Homo sapiens: one gene and its partners. The protein of the gene in region 3 interacts with the protein of the main gene of each other region in a pairwise test. Each region holds a gene or a part of one and is shown on either strand. Other genes may lie near its edges.

Region 1 (7,476 bases), on a different chromosome or scaffold from region 3:
CCCTCCGCCAGTCCCTTCCTCTGTCCTTCAAGGCCCACCTCAGATGTCACGTCCTCTGAGAGGAGCCTCCTGACCTCCAGGCTGGATCGGGGCCCTGTCTGGGCTCCCCCAGTGAACTGAGCCACCTCAACGATGACAGCTGCCCGCATCACCCTGATTTAACACTGCTTGCTTCTCCCACGGGGTTGCCCTCACCCCTCCCCTGCTCACAGCCCACTCTGCTGCCTCATTTCCCCCAGGACAGAGTCCCACAAGGCCCTGCGTGGTCTGGCTCTGGTGGCCTCACCTCAGAGCCTCAGCACCCTCCTTCCTGGTCCCCTGTCCCCAGCCACATCCCCGGTGCCCACCGCCTCCCGCCCCACCCCCGCCAACCTTTCCTCCAGCTCTTCCCCTGCCTAGGAAGGCTCTTCCGCCTGTCACCACTTGTCTCTGGGCCCTGCCTCTGAACAGCTGCACCTCTGTTCCCTATCTGGACCCTGGGCAGGCAGGACATGGGAGGAAAACGCTCGTGTGTGTGTGTGTGTGTGTGTGTGTGTGTGTGTGTGTGTGTTTCCCTCACCACCCTTAGGCTGGCACTTGTGTCTGAGTCATCTCAGGGTCTCCAGCATGGCTTTTGTATGAAAGAGCTGATGGGTCCTTGTTGCGAATGATAGAGGAGATGACTAAATACCATAATAATCAGTCTGAGGGGCTGGGACTCTTAAGATGTCCGAGAGCCGGAGGAGGCTTGGAGCAAGAGGCAGGGGAGGCAGGGCCATCTCCAGGTGTAGAAAGACTCTCTAGGATCAAGTGGGGACTGAAGGCAGGGACAGACTGGAGGCCATGGGCAGGCTGGGCAGGAGAGGGTCAGGCCTGAGCTGGGGCCAGGGACATGGGGACAGAGAGGAGGGAGTGAGAGATGGTAAAGGAGTGATTTTTTTTTTTTTTTTTTTTGAGACAGTCTTGCTCTGTTGCCCGGCTCACTGAAACCTCTGTCTCCCAGCTTCAAGCAATTCTCCCACCTTAGCCTCCAGAGTAGCTGGGACTACAGACATGTGCCACCACGCCCAGCTAATTTTATTTTTTATTTATTTTTATTTTTTAGTAGAGACGGGGTTTCGCCCTGTTGGCCAGGCTGGTCTGGAATTCCTGACCTCAAGTGATCCACCCGCCTCAGCCTCCCAAAGTGTTGGGATTACAGGTGTGAGCCACTGCGCCCGGCCAAAGAGTGATGTTGGACATTGTGAATAGTGAAGAGGAACATTCCATGCTGGCAGAGAAGGAAGCCATGCCGGGCAGAAAGAAGTACCTGGAAGCCCAGAGGCCGCACAGAAGGGCTCACGGGAGTGGAGAGTCTGGTTTGAGGGGGGCCGTGAGGGCTGAAGATGCGGAGGCAGGCTCGGCCTCCGCTATGAGGAGGGCCCTGAGTAGGGCGGGGGCGTGTTTAGGATGGACTGGAGAGCTGTGACAGGGCCCAGATAAGAGATGCCTGAAGCTGGGTGAGCCTGTAATCCCAGCTACTGGGGAGGCTGAGGTGGGAGGATCACTTAAGCTCAGGAGTTCAAGACCAGCCAGACCTTGTCTCTAAAGAAAGAACCACTGGGCCGGGTGCAGTGGCTCACGCCTGTAATCCTAGCACTTTGGGAGGCCGAGGCGGGTGGATCACGAGGTCAGGAGATTGAGACCATCCCGGCTAACATGGTGAAACCCCGTCTCTACTAAAAATACAAAAAATTAGCCGGGCGTGGTGGCGGGTGCCTGTAGTCCCAGCTACTCGGGAGGCTGAGGCAGGAGAATGGCATGAACCCGGGAGGCCGAGCTCGCAGTGAGCGAGATCGCGCAACTGCACTCCAGCCTGGGCAACAGAGTGAGACTCAGTCTCAAAAAAAAAAAAAAAAGAAAGAACCACTGGATTGAGGTCTGGCTGGGGCTGAGGCCACAGGGACAGACAGGCACAGGAGGCAACATCTCCCCAGAGTCCCAGCGTCTAGCTTAGGCAAGTGAGCGCGGAGCAGAAGAAAGCCCCCAAGGCTCAGCGCCTGCCTGGCGGCGAGACCCAGGTGGGTCACTCCGCCAGAGCTCTGCTGCTCCAGGGGCTGGGGTGGGTGACGGTCACCTCTTGCAGATCTCATCGGCAGCCTCCTGGCTAAAGAGCTGCTGCTGCAGAACGTTGTTGAGGGCGTGGACAGCACACAGCTCCAGGCGCTGCCGTTCGTGGTACACGGTGGGTGGGCTCGGCTGTGCTCCCGGGGCCTGGGACATGCCGTCCTCGGCTCCTGCTGGGGGTTGGGAGGGGGAGAAGGTCCTCAGGGGCCCGGGATCTAGAGGTCCAGCCTCCCAGCAGGCCTTTGGGGCATCGCCATTGATTGAGCTGGGACTCGGAGCAGCCCAGGAAGACACTGGGCCCCTGACCCCGCTCCCTGGCAGTCTCCTGGCAGCACACGTCCCTCCATCCCTTATTCCTATTCCTACGAAAAACGCTGTCTCTTCTGCTCCCCTAGCAACAGAAAACCACCCTCACCAGGTCTCTAAGTAAAAGGGTCCCTATCATGGTCACCTAGCAACAGAGGAACCTGCCTCCCCGTCCCTAGGTAACCAGGGCGCTCTGTGGTTACCTAGCAACAAAGCCCCCTCCCCACCGCACTAGGTAACAAAGTCTGTCCTCCGAGCACCTAGCAATAGAGAATCCTCCTCCCCTGTCTCTAGGTGATAGGGTCCCCTCTGGTCTCCTAGCAACAGAAGACTCCCCTTCCCCGGTCATGTAGCAGCGAGGCTCTCTGCTCTTGTCACCTGGCAACGGGGCCCCCTCCCCAGTCACTAAGCAACAGGAGTTCCTCTTCCTATCACCCAGCAACCAGGCCCCCTCCCCGGACACCAAGGAATGGAGCCCTTCGCCGACCCGCACCCCAGCCACGGCGCTCGCCCTTTGCCTGGCAACGCCCCTCACCCCGCCTGCCTCTCCGCTCCACCGAGCCAGGGGTTTCCGCATCCCCTTCCTGGGCGGCGGCTCTGGGCTCCGAGTGCGGGGCGGGCAACACCGCGCTGACTGGGCAGGCGGGACGGACTACAGCTCCCGGTGATCCCCGCGCGCCGGACTACGACTCCCGTGGGGCCCCGCGGGACTCCTGCTCCACACGGAACGCCCGGGCCGCGTGGCCCTGAAGTCGGCCGTCGGGCCTAGGAAATGCCGCACTACAACTTCCGTCGGGCTCCGCGGCAGGTCCCGGAAGTGCGCCTCAGAGGCCCTTCTTTCGCATACGGCCGCGCCCACTACTGCTCAGAGATTCTAGGAAACTTAGTAGGTAGGCTCTCGCGATAGCTTCCTGGCGCCGCGCTCTCATGGGTGCTCGCCCCCGGCGATGGCGTCATGCGCGGTGCGCAGACGCAGCGTGACGTCACACAAGGGAAAGGGATCAGAGACGCCAGGCGGTGCGGGGGGAGGCAGCGGTGATCTTTACTGAGTCAGAAGGGAGACCCTGGGGAAGTGGGGCAGGGCAGGGGTGGGATGGTGGTGGTGAGAGGCCAGGCAGATGATCTTGTCTCGGGAGGGAGGAGGCTTCTCAGCAGAGATGGATCCCCGGCCTGGAGGGGAGCTGGCAGCAGGCTGCGGGGAGAGGGGAATGAGCGAATGAGACAGAGGAGAGATGAGGAGACAGACGCCTGGGGGAGGCAGTGGTGGGAGGAGGGGACAGGGCAGGGGGGCGGTGGAGGAAGACCCGGAGAGAGCGGGACAGAGCCCTGGGGGTGGACAGAGACAGAGAGAGTCTCGATCAGAGGCGGGCACAAATGGAGACATCTACAGTGCCAGGATTCAAAGTCATGGAGAGAGGTTAAGGAAATAAAGGTCAGAAAGAAAGAAAGGTCAACAAATACAGAACCAGAACTGCAGAACTAGTGAGAGCCCGGGACCCCCAAGCTCTGCAGAACACAGGAGCCCAGGGCCGGGGGAGAGGGGCCTGGCCGCACCCAGGAGGCTCTGCCAGAAGGCCGTGACGGTGGCGGAGCCGGTGACCGCGCCTGGCTCGGCAGGGTTCTCTCTGCGGGTGTGCACAGCAAAGCTTCGGCCCGTGGGGCCCCGGGGTCCGCTCAGCTCTACATCCACCACGTGCATGTCCGTGAGGCTGGGACAAGAGGGGCAGTCAGTCTGGAGAGCCTGGACTCAGCCCAACACCCTGCTTAGCTCTGCTCACCTGGTATCAGCCACGAGCACCCCAATCACCCCATCGAAGCCCAGGCTGGGGGCAGCCAGGGCAGCCGCCGCCATGGTGTTGGAATTTCGCGGGGCAAAGGGGCAGAGCCCACGGACAGGGCCTTCGTAGAGCACAGTGCAAGGCCCAGGGCTGTGGGCTGCAGCCAGGGGTCCCTCAAGCCGGAAGCCATCGGGGTGTGTGGCCATGGTGACACGAAGGCTCTGGAAGCAAGAGCCCGGGTTAGGGGGAGTGGGGTCTTTGCAGGCCTCCCCTGGTTCCTGGGGAGCCCAGCAGGCCTCACCCGGAGGCCCCCAGCTGCATCCAATCTCCTGATGTCCTCAGCGCCCCACAGGGCCCCTCGGGCCACAAACACGGCGTGGTCCCAGTGCTGTGAGGCCTCCAAGAGCTGCCGCTCTGTGGTCTGGTCACTTAGAGCTGAGGGGGACCCCACCTGGGGTGGATGAAGGAGGGGAGGGTTGAGGTCAGGGAAGGATATCCACTTCAGGGTGGGGTGAGACCAAGACAGAAGGGGCAGGGCTCTGCGTAAATGGTTGGGGTGGGGCTTACCAGGAGATTGGCATGGCGCAGGATTTGTGCCCCAGATTCATGGATTATTTTGGGATGGGCCACTTCCACAACCAGATCAGGGCGCCTGGGAGAGGGGAAAGAGGGCGGAGGGTCTTGGAGAGGTATTAGGCCTCTTCTCCCCAAGGTTCCCTCCGAGTCTACTGAGGGCTGCCCTTCTTCTCCCTGACCTGGGAGGCGAAATGAGATGAATGGGTTCGTCCTGTTTCACATTTGCTTGAACCAAGGCCCAGAGAGGGTCAGGGAACCCCTGAGATCACACAGTGGCTAAGAGAGCCAGGACAGGAGCTTCAGGGAGCTCCACTCTCCCATGGCAAGGTCACTGACCTTTCCCCAAGGGCAGCAAGGTTCTGGAGCTGCAGGGAAGGGGGCACGCTCCCTGCCATTCGTCCTGGGTCACGATTCCAGACAAAAACAAGTTCTAGGCCAAGTTCTGGTCCCTGAGCCAAGAGGCGGGAGACGAGGGACTGTCCTGGGGAGAGGGAAAGGAGAGGGCTAGAGATCCAGAGAGAGGGGGACAGAGACCCAGAGAGAGAGGAGGTGGGGACAGAGACCCAGAGAGAGAGGAGGTGGGGACAGACTCAGATTGCGGGGTAGGGAGACAGAGATGGGGGCAGGGCAGAGACACAGTGGGGTGGACAGAGGCCCAGAGAGAAGGGAGACAGAGACGGAGAGGACAGAGACCTGGGGTGGGGGTGCAGTGGGCAGACCCAGAGACACAGCCAGGGGCAGATAGAGAGAGAAAAAAGTGTTTGTGGAGGGCAGAGAGTCTTGGGAGCTTTAGGAAGGGGTTTGGGGAAGGAGGCCAAGGATGGTCAGGGACTCACCGAGGCGGCCATAGCCCACCACGCCCACCCTCCACGGGCCCCTGTCGGCCATGGCCCTGAGTGCGGTGTCTGGGGCCTGGCTCCCTGGGCTGCTCGCTGCCCGCTGCACAAGGCCTGGGCAGCCGCTGCTCTTTGGACATCTGACCCTTGAGCCTCTGGGCTCAGTCTTCCCCCTTCCCCGCAGGCCCAGCGTGGGGGCGTGGGCCTGCGGGAGTGGAGGCGGGAGAACCCTTCCCTGTGCTCTGTCCACTTTCCCGGGTCCAGCACAGTGAGCATGGTGACCGGGGGTTCTGGGAACCCTGCGTGCCCCCCTTTCCCCTGCAGCACACCCTCTTTCTCCCTGCTGATGTGGAAAGTTTCCTCTGCAGTCCCCTGCCCCCTCTCTGGCCGGCCAGGTTGTCATGGAAACTGCATCTTGCTTTGGGTTGGGAGAAGAGATGGTGACAGGGACTCTGGGCTCTGTCTGTCCCCTCGTGCTCACCTCTCCTCCTTGTCCTCAGGCGGCTAAGGTCTGAGGGAGGCTTCAGCCTGGCCGTGGCCCTAGCCCTCCCAGAGGCAGCGGGAGCCCTGGTTGTGGCTTCTCCTCAATGTGCCCTTGCCTCAGCGGGTCCAACCTCCCTAGCCCCGCTGCGCAGCACGGGTCCCCTTCCCACAGCCTCCGCCCCTGTCCACAGCCTCCCTCCGCTCTGATCATCCTTCAGTTCACCTTGACTTGCTACCTTTCACTCTGTCCCCCATCGTGCCACCAGCTGCCTCCAGTGTGACGTTCTCGCTCCCACGTCCGTCCCTCCCGTTCCCCAGCTCGCGTCAGCCCAGGAGAAGCCTTCGAGGCCTGGAGAGGCCAAGTGCCCCCAACATGAGCCCCAGCCTCTGTGCCTTGAGGGTGCCTGGCATCGGAAATGGCGCAGGCTGCGGCAGCGCAGGCTCCCTGCCCCCAGCCACCACCTGGTACCCGCTGCAGTGTTTCCATGGCAACCAGGATTGGCGCTGGAAGGAGGCTGGAGAGAAAGAGAGCGTGAACGGGAGCATGGGGTGGGGGGGGCGGGCACTGGGTGGCGAGAGCCCCAAGTTGACGGGAGGAGAGAGGAGACAGACGCGGGCAGACAGAGAGGGGCCAAGACCCCGACGTGGCACCCAAAGGCTGCCGCTGCTGATAAGGGAGGAATTGGCTTCCAGAGCCAGGAGCCCCCGGTGTGGGAGAGATGAGATGCCTGGGTGTAGACAGAGCCAGGAAGGGGGCAGGGGCCAGGCACCTCACGGAAGTGGGGGGCCTCCCGCCATCTCTACCTTCTGACTCCTGCTGGGGCCTGAGTGTCCCCATAGTGCCCATAGCTGCCGTGTACGGGGTACAGCCTGGGCCACTACGAGGGGAGAAGGGGGCTGGGCGCAGGCCTGTGTGTCCTCAGGGCTGTGTCCCCGAAGCCACCTCAGCGTGGGAAAGCACTGGAAGGCCCTGCATGGCTCCGTCCCTCCCTCTGCCTCCCCCAGCAGCGTGAGATGGCAGCCCTGGCCAGCCCCAGCCCTCCAGGGCCTGCAACTCGGGCACCTTGACCCCCCAAGAGACATCACCACCCCCTCCCCCAACCCACCCAACAGCTGCCCACTGTGCCAGCAACCCCCCAGCCAGGCCCGCTCAGGGTTTGCTCCCTGCCCTCCCAGGGCTCTGCTCCTGCCCTTCTGAGTGGCACTGTGGTGCCCCTGCCGCCCCAGGCCCACCCGATCCGGCCCTCCAGCCTCCCACTGAACCGGCCAGAAATACAGCTGCTGTGCCCCAGAGGCCGCAGGCCCAGCCTCCCGCTTGGCCTCCCTCCCCTTCGGCACCCCGTCCTCTGGAGCAGCCTTGAGGGGGTCTGCAGTGGAGAGACACACTCTGGATTGGGCCCTGTTGTGGGTTG
Region 2 (6,981 bases), on a different chromosome or scaffold from region 3:
GCCTCCCGGGTAGCTGGGATTATAGATGTGTACCACCACACCTGGCTAATTTTTGTATTTTTCGTTGAGACGGGGTTTCACCATGTTGGCCAGGCTGGTCTCGGACTCCTGACCTCAAGCGATCCACACACCTCGGCCTTCCAAAGTGCTGGGATTACAGACGTGAGCCACCATGCCCAGTCTTTTTTTTTTTTTTCTTTTTTCTTGAGACGGAGTCTCGCTCTGTCACCCAGGCTGAAGTGCAGTGGCGCAATCTTGGCTCACTGCAAGCTCCACATCCCGGGTTCAGGCCATTCTCCTGCCTCAGCCTCCAGAGTAGCTGGGACTACAGGCGCTGGCCACCACGTCCAGCTAATTTTTTGTATTTTTAGTAGAGACGGGGTTTCACTGTGTTAGCCAGGATGGTCTCGATCTCCTGACCTCGTGATCCGCCCGCCTCGGCCTCCCAAAGTGCTGGGATTAGAGGCATGAGCCACCGCACCCGGCCTTTTTTTTTTTTTTTTTTTTAAAGAGACAGCATCTCACTCTGTCACCCACAAGAGAGTGCAGTGGTGCAATTATAGCTCCCTGCAGCCTCAACATTCAGGGTTCAAGCAATCCTCCTGCCTCAGCCTCCCAAGTAGCTAGGACTACAGGCATGCACCACCACGCCCAACTAATTTTTAAAAAAATTTTTTGTAGGCCTGGCGCGGTGGCTCAAGCCTGTAATCCCAGCACTTTGGGAGGCCGAGGCGGGCGGATCACGAGGTCAGGAGATCGAGACCATCCTGGCCTCAGGTGATCCACCCACCTTGGCCTCCCAAAGTGCTGGGATTACAGGCGTGAGCCACCAGGCCCGGCCCAAACCCACTTTTTAAAAACAAATATAGAGCACGGTTTCAGGCTGAAAGCTTTCAGCAAGCAACAGCAGCTAGCCAGAAGCAACCAACATGCCGTATCAACATGCAAAGCATCTGACCTTATATTTAAGAGAAGAGATTATCATTTTCCATATGCAGCGGAGTTTTGAAATTTCCTTTTAAAATACATTTATGGGCAAGGCACTGTGGCTCATGCCTGTAACCCCAACACTTTGGGAGGCAGAGGCAGGAGGACTGCTTGAGCCCAGGAGTTTCAGACCAGTCTGAGCAAGCAACATAGTGAGACCCCATAGCTACAAAAAATACAAAAATTAGCTGGGCGTGGTGGCACGTACCTGCAGTCTCAGCTACTTGGGAGGCTGAGGTGGGAGGATTGCTTGACACCAGGAGATTGAGGCTGCAGTGAACCAAGATGGTGCCACTGAACTCCAGCCTGGGCAACAGAGCGAGACCCTGTCTCAATAATAATAATAACAATAATAATACATTTATATAAGATTAAAAGTAGATCTATTTAAATAAAAATATCAAAGGAATAACACAAGTGGTATATGCATATAGTATACTGCATGTGGTAGAAAGTAAACTAAAGTTTGAGAAATTGCTGGTAATTTGCTTGAAAGCACAGGTTCTGAATGTAACAGACCTGAAGTCTGAATCCCACTTTGAGCATATAGTCAGCACCCAGTAAAATGGTTCTCTGGCCCTCCGTATGAAACTTCATCTTATGGCCGGACGCGGTGGCTCACGCCTGTAATCCCAGCACTTGGGGAGGCCAAGGTGGGCGGATCACCTGAGGTCAGGAATCCAACACCGGCCTGACCAACATGGTGAAACCCTGCTTTTACTTAAAATAAAAAATTAGCCTGGCGTACTGGCGCTCGCCTGTAATCCCTACTACTCGGGAGGCTGAGGCAGGAGAATCACTTGAACCCAGGAGGCAGAGGCTGCAGTGAGCCGAGATTGAGCCACTGCACTCCAGCCTGGGTGACAAAGCAAGACTCCGTCTCAGACAAAAAAAAAAGAAACTTCATCTTACATCACCTAAAATGCATTCCATCCCACCCTACTTGGGCATAATTAATTGCATCTTCCTCTGCAAACTGATCTGTGATTTTACACTAGATGGCATAAGAAAACCTGCATCAGCTTTTGAGCCAGACCCACCACTGCCACTTCCGAACTACATGACCTTAGATAGGCGTTTGCCCCACTCTGGGCCTCAGTTTCCTCCTTATGCAATAAGGATGATGAGCCTTATTTGTAACTCAAAGTTCGGTCCTTAGACCACTAGCATCAGCATTGCTGGGAGTTTGCTACAAATGCAGAATCTGCTCCCTTGCCTCAAACAAAATCTGCATTTTAATAAGATCCCCAGGTAATTCATATACACACTGAAGTTTAAGAATTCACGATACAATCAGCAAATGCCGGGTGCAGTAGCTCACGCCTGTAATCCCAGCACTTTGAAAGGCCGAGGTGGAAGGATCGCTTGAGGCCATGAGTTCGATACCAACCTGGGCAACACAGTGAGACTCTGTCTTTACAAAAAGTACAAAATTAAGATAAGGCAGTCAGCGAGGCACATGACAGCTGTTTAATCACCAAGTAACACCTGTTTCCCCCTCCCTAAAATGGAAAGAGTAACAGCATCCACCTCAAAGGGTTGTTGCAAAGATTAAATTAACTCAACAATGCACAGCACTTAAACCAGCGCCTAGCACACAGCAGGGCTCCACAAACTCTTGCTGGATATCAATATGGCTAACTCTTCAGTTGCTAAAGTTCTTTGCCTGCCTTCTTGTGCCGACAGAGGCCGCACTTGCGGCGCCTTGGGCCTCCCAGGGAGATCCGTTGCGGAGCGCCCAAACTGAGGCCGCCCTGGCATCCCAGTACCCCAGGGACTCCGGGCCGGGTTAGGCGACTTGGGGCGCCCCGAACCCACACTCACGCTTTCCAGCACGTCATAGTTGGCCTTGATCTGCGCTTCTATCTCCTCCTTGCGCCGCATCAGCTCCTGGACGTCGCTGACAGTCACGACGCCGGCCTGCGAGGAGCCTCCGCTCTGCCTCGCTTCCTCGTCGGACATCGTGAACCCCGGGCCGCGACTCCAGAGACCCGGCTCCCGGGCTAGGGACGACGCCCCAGTCGACCGTAACTACGGCTCCGCCCATGCGCCAAAACACCACAGCCGTCCGCGAACGCGAGAACAGTCAAGGGGCGGGGCTTGGGATGGGGCTTAGGGCGGAGCTGGGTCACCGGAAGCCGCGCCCTGCCGGAACACGTGCGCCTGTGGTGACCCGGCAGGAGTAGCGTCGGAAGCAATGGATCCCCACGCAATTGCACACCAACGCTAGGGGATGATCTCGCCCCAGCTGACTCATTTTCTCATTCGTGCAGCAGACATTTATTGAGCGCCTACTGTATGGATGGATACTGTACGCCAGAGAACCGCTGCGTGGCGCTCCAATTCAGTTCTTCACATCCACACAGCCCTGGAGGATTTACAAAATACATTAAGGTTCCTTATCCCTCACTTTACAGATCCGATATGCCTGAGTACACACCCCGTATCTTGCCACTTAACGGCAATCTGTGTGACCCTAGGTCACTACTTGGCTTCTCTGGGCCTCAGTTTCCTCATCTGTAAAATGGGGCAGTAATTGATAGCAATCTATCTCATAGAGCTGTCCTTCTGCTAACAAATATTCATGGAATGATTCCTATGAGCCATATACTGTTGAAGGTGCTGGATGTTCCTGTTAAGGCCTCTAAAAATCGTAGTGATAATAATAACGGTAACAGTGTTTATTTATTGATACTTATAATGTGCCAGACGCTGTTCTAAATGCCTTACATATATTAATTCAACAACCTCATGAAGCTAGATTATTACATCCCAATTTGACAGCTGAGAAAACCGTCTCAATAACCAATTTACCCAACTAGCAAAATGTGAGGCCAAAATTCCAACCCAGCTTACCTAAACAATCAACTTTGATATCTGACCATGTGCCTCTAATATTTTGTCTTGAAAAGGGCTCAGCGGTCATCTGTGTAGTATTCAAACATGTTTGCCCTGAATCTAATCATTGGAAAACAGACATATCCAAAAGAAGGGACATACTTCAAAACAACTGGCCTGAAAACTTCAAAAAAAGTCAATGTTGTGAAATACACATGGGGAATAAGGGGTGGGGGACAGAGAAAGGAGGCGGATATGCAATTGCCTAGATTTAAGAACACTAAAGATGTGCATCAACTAAATGCAATGGGCCAGGTGTGGTGGCTCATGCCTATAATCCCAGCACTTTGGGAGGCTGTGGCAAGCAGATCATTTGAGGTCAGGAGTTTGAGACTAGCCTCGCCAACATGGTGAAACCCTGTCTCTACCAAAAATATAAAATATTAGCCGGGTGTGGTGGCACACACCTGTAATCCCAGGTACTCAGGAGGCTGAGGTCTCGAACCCCTGGCCTCAAGTGATCCAGCCCAGCTCGGCCTTTCAAAGTGCTGGGATTACAGGAGTGAGCTACCGCACCCCTCAAAAATAAACTAACATTTCTAACATTATCGAGAGAGAGAGAGAGAGAAATACAGGTGCAGTGGCTCATACCTGTAGTCCCATTATGCTGGGAGATCAAGGCAGGAGGATCCCTTAGGTCCAGGAGTTTGAGACTAGCCTGGGCAACATAGCAAGACCTCCATCTCTACAAAAAAAAAAAAATAATAATTAATTAGCAGAGGACCAGGTGTGGTGATTCACACCTGTAATCCCAGCACTTTGGGAGGCTGAGGTGGGTGGATCACTTGAGGTCAGGAGTTCAAGACCAGCCTGGCCAACATGGTGAAACACCGTCTCTACTAAAAATACAAAAGTTACCAAGGCACAGTGCCACACACTTGTAATCCCAGCTACCTGGGAGGCTGACGCAGGAGAATCGCTTGAACCGGGGAGGCAGAGGTTGCAATGAGCTGAGATCATGTCACTGCACTCCAGCCTGAGTGACCGAGTGAGACTCTGTCTCAAATAAATAAATAAATAATAAAGTTAAAAAGGGAGGAAGAGAGAAATAATGACTAAATGCAATACATGATCCTTACTTGAATTATTTAATGAGAAACAGCAGCTTTACAAGACTTATTGGGCCAACTGGTGAAATCTAAATATGAACTTTATATTAAATTATAGTATATCAGTGTTAAATTTCCTCAGTCAGATAATGGTGTTGCAATTATATGAGAGAATCACTTTTATCTTTATTGGAACGAGATAAATGCTCAATTATTTAGATGTGTAGTGTCATGATTTCTGCTACTAACTTGCAAGTGGTCCGAAGAAAGTGATACAAGGGGAGAAAGAGGCAAAATGTAACAATTAGCAAATCCACGTGAAGAGTATAAGCATGTTCAAGAAAACTGTTTTGTAAGCTGCTTATGGCTATAATCCTAGCATTTTGGGAGGCCAGGGCAGGTGGCTCACTGCCTGAGCGGCAGAGCAAGACTCCGTCTCAAAAAAAAAAAAAAAAAAAAAACTAGGCCAGGCGCGGTGGCTCACGCCTGTAATCCCAGCACTTTGGGAGGCCAAGCCAGGTGGATCATGAGGTTAGGAGATCGAGACCATCCTGGCTAACACGGTGAAACTCCATCTCTACTAAAAATACAAAAATTTAGCCGGGCATGGTGGCACGTGCCTGTAGTCCCAGCTACTCAGGAGGCTGAGGCAGGAGAATGGCATGAACCTGGGAGACAGAGCTTGCAGTGAGCAGAGATCGTGCCACTGCACTCCAGCCCGGGCGAGAGAGTGAGACCCCATCTCAAAAAAAAAAAAAAAAACTAAATGCAATATGTGGCCAGGTGCGGTGGCTTACGCCTGTTATCTCAGCATTTTGGGAGACCGAGGCGGCTGGATCACCTGAGGTCAGGAGTTCAAGACCAGCCTGGCCAACATGCTGAAACCTTGTCCCTACTAAAAATACAAAAATTATCCGGGCGTGGTGGCTCTGTTGCCCAGGCTGGAGTGCAGTGGCGAGATCTCGGCTCACTGCAACGTCCACCTCCCTGGTTCAAGCAATTCCCCTGCCTCCCGAGTAGCTGGGATTACAGGCGTATGCCACCATGCTCGGCTAATTTTTTTGTATTTTTAGTAGAGACAAGGTTTCACCATGTTGGCCAGACTGGTCTAGAACTCCTGACCTCAGGCAATCCACCCGCCTTAGCCTCCCAATGTGCTGGGATTACAGGCGTGAGCCACCGCACCTGGCCAAATTTCCTGATTTTTAAAAAAATTGTAATATCCTCCCACCCTTGATATCTGAAAATTTCCTGATTTTGATACTTTCACTGTGGTTTTGTAAGACAGTGCCCTTAGAAAAAGTACCCTGTAGTATTTAGGGTTAAGAGAGGCAATTTACTTTCAAATGGTTCAGAAAAGAATACAGATATAGGCCGGGCGTGGTGGCTCACACCTGTAATCCCAGCACTTTGGGACACCGAGGTGGGCGGATCACAAGGTCAAGAGATGGAGACCATCCTGGCCAACATGGTGAAACTCTGTCTCCACCAAAAATACAAAAATTAGCTGGACGTGGTGACTCATGCCTGTAGTCACAGCTACTCGGGAGATTGAGTCAGGAGGATCACTTGAATCCGGGAGGCAGAGGTTACAATGAGCCGAGATGGTGCTACTGCACTACAGCCTGGCGACAGAGCAAGACTTCATCTAAAAAAAAAAAAAATACAGATATATATGTAAGGCCGGGCATGGTGGCTCACGCCTGTAATCTCAGCACTTTGGGAGGCTGAGGGGGGTGGATCACTTGAGGTCAGGAGTTTGAGATTAGCCTGACCAACATGGTGAAACCCCGTCTCTACTAAAAATACAAAAATCAGCTGGGCGTGGTGGCAGGCACCTGTAATCCCAGCTACTCGGGAGACTGAGGCAGGAGAGAATCGCTTGAACCTGGGAGGTGGAGGTTGTAGTGAGCCGAGATCGTGCCACTGCACTCCAGCCTGGACCATATAGTGAGACTCCGTCTCAAGAAAAAGAAAGAGATATATATTTGTAGACAAGAGAGAGATAAAGTAAATACGGCAAAATGTTAATAATTGGTGACTCTGT
Region 3 (7,021 bases):
TCATTCCTCCTCCTGCCCACACCTACCTCCCTTTAAATATTTTAGGTTGCAGAAGCACAGCTGACCAGAAATTTGCTCTTAAAGATAAATCCTAAAGATAGAACTCAGTGCTTTATACTGAGTAATGGCTCAAGAAATTCGCCTTCAGCACAAGCTGTATGGTACACAGCTGATAGAATTTGCTGTTGTGGCTCCAGTTCACTGATGCTATGAACTACGGGCTAGAAACAGAGGGACTTAACAGGGCTTGAGACTAGCATTTCTCTAGACTCAGCATCCTTAGCTCCAAAGGTTCAAAAGAGAAATTGGTAACAACTAACCACTCAAGCAATTCCTCAGCATTAACACCAAAAATTCTCCTTAATTTTTCTTTTCTTTTTTTTTTTTTTTGGACAACAGAAATAAATCCTAGAGGACAAAATTAAACTCAATAGAGTGTAGTCTAGTTAAAAACTCGAAAAATGAGCAAGTCTGGTGGGAGTGGAGGAAGGGCTATACTATAAATCCAAGTGGGCCTCCTGATCTTAACAAGCCATGCTCATTATACACATCTCTGAACTGGACATACCACCTTTACGCAGGAAACAGGGCTTGGAACTTCTAAGGGAAATTAACATGCACCACCCACATCTAACCTACCTGCCGGGTAGGTACCATCCCTGCTTCTCTGAAGAAGTGAAAGAGCACTGATTTCAGCAGCTAAGAAATGGGCTCTTTTAAGGCGATTTAGACATTGCAGATTGTTCCACAGAGAAGGTACCTTAGCATTTCCTGTTAATAAGGTACCTAATTAAGACTAAAGTCCCCAGAAATGGTAAAGAAAGAATCACCTTTCTGGGCTGGGAGAGTAAAATCCTTCTTTAGTGACTAGAGTGAGGAACCCTGAACTTCTATTTCATCTAAAGAGCCATGAAGCAAGTTCCTGTGTGGTCTGCAGAACTTGGATAATGAGATGAAAAAACAAGAATGAAATTATAGGAAAAAAATCAAGAGGAAAGGAGTAAGAAGAAAATAAAAGTTATCTTAAAAAATATTTCTTTAGAGTGTGTGGTTCAGGTGGACTGGTCCTTGGTAGTATGGTCCATTAGTATCTGTAAAGAGAGAGAGTGATTGGTTAACACTTATGTCTTCCATATGAGAATTCCAAAAAACAATCGGAAACAGAGCACCTTCTCCAGGGCCCCTCCCCAGCCTGGGTGGGATCCCTGCAGTCATTCCCCAGGGCACCAGTCTCCCTTATTCTTCCACAGGGTCTCTGACAATGCCATTTCTGGTGTTACCGCCTGTTCCCAGGAATGAGTCAGTGTTTTTTCAACCCTGACTAAACATTACAATAATCTGGGGAGGTTTTACAAAATAATGTTTTGTAAATTTGGTCCCATCGCAGACCAAATATATCAGAATCTCTTAGGGTGAGGCCCAGGCTCCAAAATTTCAAAAAAACCCTAACTCCCTGATATCTCCCACAATTTCTCTATCTACCTTGTTAACTGGAACAGTTTTTTTGTTTGTTTGTTTGTTTTTAAGACAGAGTCTCACTCCATCACCCAGGCTGGAGTGCAGTGGCATGATCCCAGCTCACTGCAACCTCCGCCTCCCAGGTTCAAGTGATTCTCGTGCCTCAGCCACCTGAGTAACTGGGATGACAGGTGCCCGCCACCACACCCGGCTAAGAGATAGGGTTTCGCCATGTTGGCCAGGCTGGTCTTGAACTCCTGACCTCAAGTGATCCATCCGCCTAGGCCTCTCAAAGTGCTGGGATTACAGGCGTGAGCCACCGTGCCTGGCCTGGAACAGATTTCTTGTATTCTTCAAAATCAGGTACAACATTTGATCTTTATGTCAGAAGCAGGCTAGCCTGCTTGGTTTAATACTGGGAAAAAGAGCTTTTCACTTGCTTCTCCCCAGGTTACCTGTAATAATTAGGTTTGAATGGCCCATTTTTGTTGAGTCCCAGATATTTTGCTTGGTCATCTGTCAGCTCTGTAAGGTGGGCATCAAATGATGGCAGATGCAAGCTGGCAACGTATTCATCTAGGAAGAGCAAAGTGGCAGGAGAGCAGACTCCTTTTCAAAATGTCTCTCAAGTTATAACTTCCCATTTTCATTTGAAGCTTTTTTAAGAAAGCAGACAAGGGATGGAATAACTCTGAAAGAATCCACAACTTGAAATATTTGCTTAATTAAAAAAAAAACCTCAAAGCTGCCTTTCTGGGCAGGATGCTTCTCTCAGCACATGTACAGTGCGTTCAGAAAAGCCACTTACCAGGGTAACAAAAGGGAGTGGGCTTTTACCTCTCTATCCTTCTCTGGCAAAGCAGGGGGCTTCCCTGCAGTGGCCCACATGTCACATGCTACTCCTACCTTCCTGCAGCAACCTCCTTAACTAGATTATAGTCAAATTAGCAATCAAAGTGGACACCAGTAAGCTAGAAAGACCCTGTGTCAATAACACTCATTTAGGATAAGATCCATGGATCTTAGGATCATGAATTTCTAAGGTAGTCGGCACAGAATTTTTACTTTTCCATAGATAAGCTTCCCTTTTATAATTATACACTGAAAAAAAAGTCTGAAGTAAGCTATTGGAGGAGAGGAGAGCAAGAAGTATTTTAGCATTAAGAAGTCAGGGATTTGGGCTAGCCAAGGAGATATGGGAGATGGGTACACCGTGCAGAAAGGCAAAGGACTAGAGATGATGTATTATGTCACATGAACACAGCATGGGTTGCTTACAAGAGATTGGATGGTTTGCATATCCTCACAGAAAATGGACAATAAAACCTGTGTTTGTTTCTCTCATTTTGTTCCAAGGCTGTATGTACTCAGCTGCACTGGGAAGTTTACTGAACTTCATAAGGCTACTTAGAGTAAGAACATCTCCCTAAACCATTGTGTTAAGCACTGTTACTCATTAGCTGTGATTCTCACACAATTCTACAATGTATGTAGTATTATTTTCATTTTACCAATCAAGAAACTGAGGATCATAGAGATTAGAACTTGTCCTGAGGTCAAACAACCAGTAAGCACAGGAACAGGAATTGGAACTCTGACTCTAAATCCAATGCCTTTCATGGCAGTCATTTTACCAAACTATGCAGCTGTCTGCATAGATTTCCACTGTTTTTCACTCACCCATTTTCTTAGGAAGCAAGTACACATCCTGCTTGTATCGCCCCTCGGGTGCATTATAGAGTTCTATCAGTGCCAAAGCCTAAGGTGGGAAAAGAAGGCCAGAAAGCACAAAAATATTTCTTAGACAGGCACATAAAAATAAAACCAGGTTAAACAGCATTTGGGTAAGTACTACAGTGATCTACCACAGTCACAGTACCTAGGACTTTGCCTATACTAAAGGGCAGCACACATCCTAAGAGGATTTGTTGTTTTTGTTTAGTTCCTAACGAAAGAACAAATCAAATAAAACTAAGCTGGAACATTATATTCTCAACTAAAACAGCCAATTCAACGAATACTGACTTAGTGACTCTTTTCTATACTTAAGAATACCTGTTTCCACAATTTATTACATCAAAAAAGAATAGGATGATGAGAACATAGTACAGTACACCCTCACTGGAACTGATCTACGCCCAGTTCCACAAATTGCAGTGCAGTGTAAGCAGGCATTTTGCCACATACCTGTGTTGTGGCTGTGATGGACAGAACAAAGGTGGGAACTGTGGAGCAGCTCAAATTGAGTAGACGACCCTGGAAAGGTAAGAGAGAGCCCTGGGATGAGCTCTGTCTCAGATTCCAATGGCATACAAGTCAAGCCAAAGCGGGAGAGGACTTTACACCCCTCTAGACTCAGTTGGAAGAGGAAGAATTACAGTTCCAGATCAGGACTCTAGGCTTTTTCCTATTTTCTGCAAATCCATCTGAGTCTGAAAGGTTAAAGAATCAGCTGTGGTTAGGAAATAGTGTTACTTAGTAAAAAGTAGATTTTTTTAAAGTGGTTTTATTTTGGGGACCAATTTGTGAAATATCTCTCTCTCCAAAGATAAAATTCAGGGAAACATAGGCCTAATATTTGTTTCCCTCCCCTCCCCCCTCATAGATCTAACTACTCTGCTTGTGCTGCTCTGCCAGGGTCCTTCTCTGTGTGTACCTCTGCCAGGAGGACAACTCGTTTGCCATCTGGCCAGATGACATGGTCCACCTGAGAACGTACTCGCTCCCACGTCAGCTCCGGAGTGCGGAGGCTGGTCTGAAAGGAAGAAAGCACAGTTGACTATGGTTATTAATGAAAGGTAGTAGAGAAATGCCTAGCAACAAATGAGAGAAGCCTTACCACATCGATTTCTGTGTTGGAGTGGCCCATATTGCATACGATACAACTGTTTTTCATGCGATCCAAGTGCTCCCGTGTCACTACATTCTTATTTCCTAAAAGAAAAGATGGGTGGTTAAGGAAAGAGATGCCGGGCAACAAAGGTACTGGCTGGCTTTCAGGTAGAACATAGGAGACCAGAGGCTTGCTGGCATTAAAGAACATGTAGACATTCTGAGAGAAGACATGCATAACCGCTCCTTAGGCTATCTGGTCTTCAGATCAAGCAGTATAAAAAGTCACCAGGGAAAAAAGTTTTTTACTCTGGAAAACATGTTAAGGTTCTGATAGCTTATTCTAGTTCTGAGACCTTTATACTGAACAGAGGTCTCACCTCCTTTGTATGAAAGTCACTCAGACTACTTTCAAGATTTAGCCTCTGAATAAACACTTCTCTATGCAAGTTATTTACCTGTGCAAGTTATTACGACATCGACTTGCCGGATGACTTCATTTAGCTTTACCACCCTGAACCCATCCATGCTGGAAGAAAAGAAAGGAACACTATGAGTAAAGCAAGAAGGCAGTGGGAGGGAAGATGGTCATGAAATGAGACAAGATCCCCTTCTAGTTGGATCCAGTGCCACCTCACAGGAATGGTGAGTGATAAGCTCTGCTAAACTATATACACTGGCCTCTTCAGAGTCCCCAAGACTCCCTCTAGGAAGGAAAAATGCCAAGAGGCTCTCAGAGAGCCCTAGGGTTAGAGTGAGAAGAACAGAGCAGTCCTAGCCTTCTCTTCCCCTAGGTGATTTCTGCAAAAATGATTAATATACTCAATTATGAACTCTCAATAACATAAAGCACCTAGAGTGAATCTAATAGTATTATCACTCTGTTCTTACCAGGCCTGCAGAGCACAGATGGGGTCGATTTCGGTAATGTAGACAATTGCTCCAAGAGCTTTGAGAGCAGCACAGCAGCCCTTGCCTACCTGCAGAACAAAAGAAAGGTCAAGTCGTTAGGTTCATTAAGTCATGGATATTTAGGGTAGGTAGGTTATTTGTGAGACAGGAATTAACCTTCATGAAATAGCCTGTCATCTGGTGAGCAGCTGCACAGACGCTCCAATCCCAAGCAGAACAGAAACAGACCCAGATTACGTTGTGAACCTCAGTTAGAGAGGTAATTTAGCAGACATGTCATAGGAAGGACTGGGGCTTTGCATAGCAGTTTTCATCAGGGAAACAAGACTAAGCAAAAGCAACTTACTCTAAGCAACCTCTAATTTCCTATTCTCTTACTTGAGAAGAATCTACTCAAGGATACCCTCGTAGCTCAGGAACTTCTTTGGGTCATTGCTGAAGACAACAAAATATGTGACCTATTCCAGTTTGGAGATATTCAACTATATGCCATTTCAGATTCCACCCTTAATTCTACTGCAAGTCACTTGTGGGGCTAAAATGCTATATATTCACTTGAATTAAGTCTCATTAAAGGTTATTGTTATAATTGGGGAAGATGATACTAGTATCTATTCCACAAGGCAAAATGGTAAAATCTGAAAACTCAATTCATTTTGTATGTTTCTATTCATAAATCTGAATAAAAGGCTTTTGCTATTGTTTGAGATACATTATCTAAAAAAATTTAAACCTTGTATCAGTGACTCTAGATTGACAGCACAAGCCTCCTTTACCCAATATTTCTAATAAGTACACAAAAAGAAAGAGACACTGAGACCCAGCTATTTACCTCACCATAGCCACACACCACCACTTGTTTCCCACCAAACATCACATCTGTGGTCCTCTTCAGGCTGTGGAAACAGACAAGGGCTCAACTCAAACGTTAATAGCTCAAACTCAGTCCCTCTTCACAAAGTTAAAAGTGTGGGCCAATGCCCATGAGAATATCAATTGGAAGCTGGTTGAGCTCAGTATGAAATGGTCCCTCTAATAAACTTTTAAAGCCAAAGGAAGACCAGAGCCCCTAGAAGTTTGAATATATATACATTCAACCTACCCATCCAAAATGGATTCTCGGCAGCAGTACAAGTTATCAAACTTCTGTTTGGTAACAGAATCATTGACGTTCATGGCCGGAACACAGAGCTTCCCAGCTTTGGAGAGCTGATACAGCCTAAAGAGAGAAGAGGTCACAAAAACAAACAAAAACCAAGTTAGCTGGCACAACATAATTTGTGGCAAAATCTGCCTAATTCTCTTCAAGTTCCATGCTGCCCTTCCCAGTCTCATTTATTGCCCAAGGATATTAGAAAACATGATTATTTCCTTGTCATCCCTCCACACTTCTTTTCATTTTCTTCTCCCTTTACCCCTTTTTTGGAAGAAAAAAAAAAGCCTTTCAATTGAAGAAATGTACTTCTCTTCCCTTTATAGGGAGTGTTATTTCCTTTGATCAGCATTTTTCAATAGAAACCCATGCCTACTTCTGATAAACAAAGACTATCAATGATTCTGATATGGTTCCGTGTGTGTGTGAGTAAGCATGCGCAATGTGCCCCCAAGAAACACTCTTTCAGATATCTTTTCAGTATTCCAACAAGCCAAGAATATTTTGCCCAGTTTTACTTTTTGTAGTGTGTATAACATGTAGTTTTACAATAGGATTGTTTTTCATATTTCAAATATAAAATGATAATACAATATTGAATACAGTTTTTCAAGATACATTTATTCCCTACCCGCCCCTCAACACTAGTTGAGAATCACTCAATGG
Region 4 (7,808 bases), on a different chromosome or scaffold from region 3:
AAGTGGAATCATCAACACTAGTCCTGTGTCCTGGGAGAAAAATGAAAGAAAACAATAAAAATAATTTTTTGGGCCAGGTACGGTGGCTCACGCCTGTAATCCCAGCACTTTGGGAGGCCAAGGCAGGTGGATCACGCGAGGTCAGGAGTTTGAGACCAGCCTGGCCAACATGATGAAACCCCATCTCTACTGAAAATACAAAAATTAGCCAGGCGTGGTTGCTCATGCCTGTAGTCCCAGCTACCTAGGAGGCTGAGGCAGGAGAATCGCTTGAACCCAGGAGGTGGAGGTTGCAGCGAGCTGAGATCACGCCACGGTACTCCAGACTGGGCAACAGAGTGAGACTCAGTCTCAAAAAAATAATTTTTTGAAAGTCACAGAAGGCAGGTAAAATGGCTCACACTTGCTTCTGACCTTCATTCCTAGAACCTCTCTGCCAATATTTCAGAAAAAAAATGACAGAAAATAATAAAAGTAATTTTTTTGAAAGTCAGAGAAGGCAGCCACAATGGCTCACACCTGTAACCTCAGTACTTTGGGAGGCCAAGGCGGAGGACTGCTTCATCCCAGGAGTTCGAGACCAGCATCTCTTTTTCATAAAATAAAATTTAAAAAAAGAAAGTCACAGAGCCAGTTGAAATTTCAACAAAGGAAGTTATCTAAATTCACATCTCTCATGTATTTTATCAAAAATAACTGTCCATAAATTTATTATATTATTTTAGGATTACTTCATATATTAAAAATTTCTTAAAAACACTAAAGATGAAATAAGTAGTATAAAGAAAGCTTTCCCTTTCTTTCCTTTAGAAAACAAAAATAAAATCTAAAAACTACTAAAGATAAAAGCAACAGGGTGGAGTGGAGAGGAAGAATCAACACAGAAAATTAAAAAAACAATAAAACATAAAGTTAATAAAAATATGAACCAAAGATTAATATGACTTTCCAAGATGTTCATTGGCAAAGTGTTCTGTGTGAACTAAATCTTAAAATAAGAATTTGCTAACTATATATCTGGAAATACTGAATAGAAATAAAAACATTATTTGTACTTGTTACTGCTGCAACTAGTCATTTCTTTAAAAATAATATTTATGGCTCATTCTACTGTATTCTTTTCAATATTTCTATAAGTCATTACCTTTCAGAGGAATAAACCCTAAAATATTACATTGAATCACGTATTGTTTTCTGCTAGAATATTTATTATTCATTTTTAAAGATAGCCTCTATAATCGGTATAAACTTTCCTGTTTAATTATAATCACTTTTTTCATTCAACACCATTATTTCTTCTATTTCTTGATACATATAAAAGTACTGAGCTGTTATACTACAATATTTTTAATCTTGATTATTTGTAGCATATAAACTGAGGGCTATGCGCTGTCTAGCAAGAATATTTCTATTTTTGTGTACAAAAATTAGTCCTATCTAAATACTGGGCCTTAAAATCGATTTTTTAAAAAATACTTGAGAATCTTGAAGGCATTCGTGTATTTTACTGCTATATGTACAAGTCGATCAGAAGTGATACCTGTGCAGACTCTGCCCTGAAAACAATCAGTTCCATTACTTTACTTTTGTAGTTTAGACTTGGGAACTGCTGACAAAACAGCTATGGGCAACACAGACGCAGTTTTGAAAACCCGACTCCCCTGCTGTCTAATACCTGCATCTGAGGGCAACACGGTGAGCGGGACATCTTTGGTTTCAATTTTTACAGAAGGCTCCAGTAGGGACTGCATTTTAGTAGGCACTGGTGTCAGGGGGACCTTGGTCAATCTTATCAGCTCTGAAGGCGGAGCTCCCTGAAACTGGATCCGGGCCCCAGGGGGGACCGTGTGGAGCGTCAAAGGGATCCTAAGGTCTTGCTGGTGCGGCCCAAAGGCACCGGACGTTGGGGCCAAGATGACCTCCGCGCTGCCATGAACCAGGCCATTGGACGCGGGCTCCGCGCCGAGCCTGCAGTCCTCGAGGAGTCTCTCGGGTTCCTCCGTTTTGATCACACCTTCTCGGATGGCTGCCGGGCTTTTGCCTGCCCCGCCTTGCATCGAGTCTCTCATGACCTCCTCCGCCTCCAGCTTGCCCTTCTCGTCCCCTCGGAAGTAGCCGAGGGCCGGCCCGGGGCCTTCCAACTTGACCACCCTGGAGGCTCTAGGACCGGTTTCGACGGCCCCTCGAGGCCCCACTGACTGATCCAGGCTGGGCCCCAGCTTCTGCTTCTTGGCCTTGACATGCAGCGCCAGGGGCTGCACCGGGTGCAACTCGGGCCTGGAGGTGGCGCCGTCTGACGCTGTCGGCGGCTGCAGGAGCCGCAGGTCGGGCCTGAACTGCAACAGCCGCGCCTGCGCGGACGAGGCAGCGGCTTCCTCGTTCTGGGCCTGAGGCTGTGGTAGCAGCAACACCTGCTCTGGCTTCACCTGCAGCAGCCGCCGCACCGCGGGCTGTAAGCCGGACGCCACTGCCTCCCCGCACGACGAGGCCAAGGTCGCACTGGCTGCCGCGCTCAGTGTGGGAGACGACGGAGGGGGCTCCATGGCTGCTGCCCAAAAGGAGGTGCCCTCGACCGGCAGCGGGGGCGGAGCGGGACGCAACGGGCGCGGCTGAGGCGGCGGCTCGGGTCTGGCTCTCTCCATGGGGGAGGGGGACGCCCCGGCCAGGATTGTGAGCTCAGCCGTTTGTTGGCGACCTTCCCCCTCCCCCTTTCGGTTAAGAGCCTTGCAAGGCCTTTGCTACCCAGAACCCTACGCGGTTCAAAACGCAGCTGTCTGTCTGGGCCTCACCCAATCACAACGACCGATACCCGTGGACGGCCAATCACAGGCGGGTTTTCCGGCTCTTCCTGGTCCCTACTCTCGCCTCGTGCTGAGTCCTCGAATCACCTGCCATGGTAGGAGCCGCCGCACTTGTTGCACATTTTCGTTCTGACTCTCTTGTGGAGTTCTCTTACAGCCGTTGTCTTTAGTCATCCCTCCCCCACCCGGAGCTGCGACAATGGCGTTGCCCAGGAAACGTTGCGCTTCCAGGCCGCTGACATCCAGGGAATGAAGTCTTGCGTCACAAGGGGAGCGACGGCCTTGTGCACGCGCTCTGTGCGGCCTGAGTAATCTGTCGGCCCTGAGTACCACCAGGGCTTTTGAATCTTTGCCAAGGGAGAATGGGGAAGATTTTGCAACTTATCAATAACCTATTAGCTAATGTTGCTGGGGAGGATCTTCGACTTTGTGTGATTATTGTGCTAAAGTTTCAATTAATCACCAGGCCCTGTGGCCCTACTTCCAAAATACTATACATCCCAAATTCATCCACTGTTTTGTGTCTCTACCTGCCATTATCCTGTTCCAGGCTCCCAGCATCTTTCACTGGGATACTGCCGTAACCCTGTAAATAGTCTCCCTGCTTGTCACCCTTGCCCCACTACACTCCAGCTGCCAGTGATCTTTCGAAAACGCAAATCTAAGGTTGTCACACTTTTCCTAAACTTTCCATGGCTCCCCACTGATAATGTAATGAAAGTCTAAAATTCTTAGCAAAGCCTTAAAAATCCCCCAGTGGCTTGGGATCTAACCTCCTACTACTGCTACTATTAGATTGGTGCAAAAGTAATTGTGGTTTTTGCCATTAAATAGTTATTGAGTCTTTGGGTTTCAGCCACATTGGCCCCATCATCATTCTCTTTCTACTGCAGGGTGTTTAAACATGCTCAGCATGCTACTCTTTCCTTTGTGTCTCCTTAATTCCTCCTGCACATTTTTCATATTGCAGCTCAACTGGGACTTCTTCAGAGAAGCTTTTACTGACTCTGAAAATCAGATAAAATCTTGGTCTACTTATACCTCTATCACTTGGTTTGCTTACCACAATTTGTAATTAGAATTTTCATGTGATGATTCCACTGCCTCTCCCACTTTAGACTATAAAGTCCTTGAAGGCAGAACAGTTTGTGTTTTGCCCATCACTGAATCCACAATGCAGACCATTGAGCCTGGCATATAGTACTCAATAAATACTTGTTGAATAAATAAATGAATAGCGACTGTGATAGGGTAATAATAAAATAGTAATAATCACTACCTGTGTTAAGGGCTTACTCTTATGCTAGACACTGTTCCAAATCCTTTCCATGTTTATGTTTCTCCTTTTAGTAGGATTGTGTTTATTTCCATTAAACATCACCAAGAAAAACAAAAAGAAATCCTGTATTAACATTTGCTGCATTTCTAAATGACATTCTGGCCAAAAACTATAGTTTATCTTGACGTAGATGATTTTTGCAATCAAGACAAGTTATCACTCAAAGACCACTCCAATTTATTGTCCAATCCTCTGGTAACAAATGTGGTCAGTAGGAGTTCTTATACCTGGCAGATAGACAAGGGCAATGGTTTTCAAACTTTTATCTCAAGAACTCATTATACCCATAAAAACTATTGAAGATCCTGGGCTGGGCGTGGTGGCTCACTCCTGTAATCCCAGCACTTTGGGAGGCTGAGGCAGGCGGATCACTTGAGGTCAGGAGTTCGAGACCAGCCTGGCCAACATGGTGGAACCTCGTCTCTACTAAAAATAAAAAATTAGTTGGGCATGGTGGCACATGCCTGTAATTCCAGCTACTCGGGAGGCTGAGGCAGGAGAATCGCTTGAACCTGGGAGGCAGAGGTTGCAGGAGCCGAGATCGTGCCACTGCACTCCAGCCTGGGCAACAGAGCAAGACCCTGTCTCAAAAAAAAAAAAAAAAACTATTGAAGATCCCAAAAAAGCTTTTGTTCATGTGGATTTCATCTATCAATATTTACCATGTTGTAAATAAAAACAAATTTTAAAGATAGCAACTCATTTAAAACGTCAACAATAAAACCATTCTGTGGTAACACATTTTCATAGGAAAAAATTATATTTTCCCCACCTTATGCTCACAAGAGAATGAAGTGAAAAGAGCAAATATTACATTAGGATTATTATGAAAATAGTTTTAACCTAGCTGACTCTGTAAGTGTCAGTCCCCATACCACACTTTGAGAACCACTGTACTAGGGTTTAAATGGGAGAGGCAACTGTATGCATGAGCAAAAGCTGATAAAAGAGGCAAATAAGTTGTCAGAGGTGTGTGAACCAGAGCACCTCCATCTTGAGTAGGTGCTGGGTAAAATGAGGCTGAAACATACTGGGTCGCATTCCCAGACAGTTAAGGCATTCTAAGTCACAGGATGAGATAGGAGGCTGGCACAAAGTACAGGTCATAAAAACCTTGCTGATAAAACGGGTTGCAATAAAGAAGCTGGCTAAAACCCACAAAAACCAAGATGGTGATGAGAATTACCTCTTGTCATCCTCACTACTACACTCACACTGGCAGCATGACAGCTTACAGATGCCACTGCAATGTCAGGAAGTTATCCTATATGGTCTAAAAAGGGGAGGCATGAAAAATCCACCCCTTGTTTAGCTTATCATCAAGAAATAACCATAAAAATGGGCAACCAGCAGCCCTTGGGGTTGCTCAGTCTATGGAGTAGCCATTATTTTATTCCTTTACTTTCTTAATAAACTCGCTTTCACTTTACTTTATGGACTCGCTCTGAATTCTTCCTTGTGCGAGATCCAAGAACCCTCTTTTGGGGTCTGGATCTGGACCCCTTTCCTGTAACTTCTTTCTGGTGACCCAGGTGGGATTATAGTGTGTAAGCCCCCAGTAAGTGGTGAGGTCCTGTAACATCTTTCTGGCAACTATGGAATGGACTGCAGTATGGAAACCCCGACCCAAAGGCTAACTTTGGGTAAGTGGTGGGGTCCGGTAACATCTTTCTGGTGAACCCTAAAGGGACGATACTTAGGAGACTCCTGACTCAAAGGAAATAGACTATAGCACTGATTGGACAATTTTGGATAAGTGGTGGGGTACCCAGATAAAGAATGGGATTGGGTTAGAAGCCCAACTTAGGAGGGTTAGAGTCCCTTCTAAGATTTAGGGGGCTAGAAGCCCCTCTCGGTAAAGTCCCCTTTGGCTAAGAACAGGTTTGGCACTACGGTATGTTAACTTCTATTCTCCTTGGAATAATCTGCCTTGTACTCTTTGCTGATGGATGCGGATGACAGGGTTAGGCAGGTACAGGATCATGGGACATGAGGAGCTTTTTCCTCCCGTAAAGGGGAAACTTGAGAGTCGATGGGACTGCTGGAAAACATCCCTTCACTACCGAGAAGTGGCCACCTGAACTCTTCACTGTCGCTGCAGTGGGTGGATCTTTCTGTGGCTTCCCTGAACGCCTGGCCTTCCCCACCTTGCCTCAGGCAATGCTGTCGTCTCTCTCTGTGCAAACTGGTTGTAGGAATGGTAAAAATCACTATTTCTTACAAAGTTTTGATTAATGGAAGAAAGGATTTGTGAGGCTAGTCTTAAGCTGTAGCCAATCTGGTGTGTTTCCTGTGTCATTCTGTATTGTTCTGTCATAAAGAGGGGTACCTTAGGATAGAACATGGGCTTAGGACACCTATAAGCCTGCTGTTCAAGATGGCCCAGCAAACTGGTCAGTTAAAAACTTTGCTGCAGGTCCGTGAAAAAAACTGGATGAGGTTTCCCTCTTGTCTTGTATGTCCTTGGGAGCTTGACCTTGTAACCATGTGGCTGTGCTTTCTCTTTCACAGTGGTGGCCCGGGTTCAGGGTTCAATTCCCATCTTAGGAGATGAGTCCTTTATCTTTTGTCTGTGTATTTATGTGTATCATGTGTGTGGTGCTTGTATATAACAGAGGTTTGATTAATCGGTTAAAAATAATAAGTGCTTCAGTCATATTTTTGTGAGAAAAATTAAACATATAATGCCTTTTATATAGTTCATGTGACTTAAGTAATCTTTGGGAAATGAAGACAGTTTTAAAGATTATTGGTAAAATAAAAATATCTTAAAATGTAAACATTTGGTCTAAATTATGCAGGTCAGATATTAGGTTTGCTAAATGCTTTAAGTTCATAAGCTGCTGCTTTCACTTTTGAAAATTGTTTAATTTACCTACTTTGACCATATTAGAGTCTAGATAAGGCCTGGGGACATGTGATGTTAGCCATACCCCAAGCAATGCTAGAAAAAGTCAGACCTTATCTGCACTTCTGTCTGTGTCCTAGGCTGCACACCTAGTACATAATTAAAATGCTTACCAACCAGGGTTTTCACCAAAAGTAAAAATCGCTGAAAGTTAACATTGTAACATGTAATTGAGACTACTGAAGAATAGTTCTACACATAAGGTGTGTAAGGAAAGTGAAATGTGTTTTTGGTAAAAGATCATTAGAAGTCATGAGAATGTAAATTTTCTTCCTTAGATTAAATGGTTAAATTATTGTTTTAAGTTAGATAGAATGAAGCTGAAGGTTTAAGAAAGTTTTGGAAAGTGTGAAAAATTAATTGTAGGACATTCTGTGTGTGAATATATTAGTTAAAGTTAAAGGGGTATTCAGTTTTTCTATAAATTAAACATTGGAATAAAAGCACAAGTTTTTTTAGAGCAAAAACCTGCTATGATTTGCTCTTTAACAAAAATATGTAAAGGGTTATAAAAGGTTTGTGAGAATCTTACCTTATAGTCAAACTGATTAAGATTGAATACATTTGTCTATAAGGTTTTATAAAGAATTGGGTTTGTCATCAATAATGCACTAATGCAAGAGTCACATTTGGCTTATTTGGTACAAAAACCACACAGGAAGCATTATCAAATGTAAAATGGTGTTTGGATTTTTGGGGGCTGTAATTGTATAAATGTATTATTGGTATATATTGAAAATTATTTTTAAAAGTCTTATAA

Evidence for each region.
Region 1: the proteins of AHCYL1 (region 3) and JOSD2 interact in binary tests that used the Homo sapiens proteins (3 or more experiments, as listed by UniProt).
Region 2: the proteins of AHCYL1 (region 3) and PSMD9 interact in binary tests that used the Homo sapiens proteins (3 or more experiments, as listed by UniProt).
Region 4: the proteins of AHCYL1 (region 3) and SOX30 interact in binary tests that used the Homo sapiens proteins (3 or more experiments, as listed by UniProt).

Annotation. Positions count from the first base shown.
Region 1 is NC_000019.10:50,508,191-50,515,666, forward strand, and holds the start of JOSD2 (josephin-2), read right to left. Parts: upstream 3,002-7,476; 5' UTR 2,927-3,001; exon of another isoform or gene 2,885-2,926; intron 2,259-2,884; 5' UTR 2,242-2,258; coding exon 2,096-2,241; intron 1-2,095. Other genes in the region: ASPDH (aspartate dehydrogenase domain-containing protein), read right to left, coding at 3,540-3,583, 3,946-4,100, 4,170-4,390, 4,471-4,620, 4,737-4,821, 6,301-6,911. UniProt on the Homo sapiens protein: Cleaves 'Lys-63'-linked poly-ubiquitin chains, and with lesser efficiency 'Lys-48'-linked poly-ubiquitin chains (in vitro). May act as a deubiquitinating enzyme.
Region 2 is NC_000012.12:121,884,825-121,891,805, reverse strand, and holds the start of PSMD9 (26S proteasome non-ATPase regulatory subunit 9), read right to left. Parts: upstream 3,017-6,981; 5' UTR 2,950-3,016; coding exon 2,812-2,949; intron 1-2,811. UniProt on the Homo sapiens protein: Acts as a chaperone during the assembly of the 26S proteasome, specifically of the base subcomplex of the PA700/19S regulatory complex (RC).
Region 3 is NC_000001.11:110,015,744-110,022,764, reverse strand, and holds part of AHCYL1 (S-adenosylhomocysteine hydrolase-like protein 1), read right to left. Parts: intron 6,422-7,021; coding exon 6,305-6,421; intron 6,099-6,304; coding exon 6,035-6,098; intron 5,271-6,034; coding exon 5,182-5,270; intron 4,820-5,181; coding exon 4,749-4,819; intron 4,393-4,748; coding exon 4,298-4,392; intron 4,214-4,297; coding exon 4,115-4,213; intron 3,891-4,114; coding exon of another isoform or gene 3,846-3,890; exon of another isoform or gene 3,715-3,845; coding exon 3,646-3,714; intron 3,218-3,645; coding exon 3,139-3,217; intron 2,035-3,138; coding exon 1,914-2,034; intron 1,092-1,913; coding exon 1,085-1,091; coding exon of another isoform or gene 1,039-1,084; 3' UTR 1-1,038. UniProt on the Homo sapiens protein: Multifaceted cellular regulator which coordinates several essential cellular functions including regulation of epithelial HCO3(-) and fluid secretion, mRNA processing and DNA replication.
Region 4 is NC_000005.10:157,649,437-157,657,244, forward strand, and holds the start of SOX30 (transcription factor SOX-30), read right to left. Parts: upstream 3,003-7,808; 5' UTR 2,643-3,002; coding exon 1,676-2,642; intron 1-1,675. UniProt on the Homo sapiens protein: Acts both as a transcriptional activator and a repressor. Binds to the DNA sequence 5'-ACAAT-3' and shows a preference for guanine residues surrounding this core motif. Binds to its own promoter and activates its own transcription.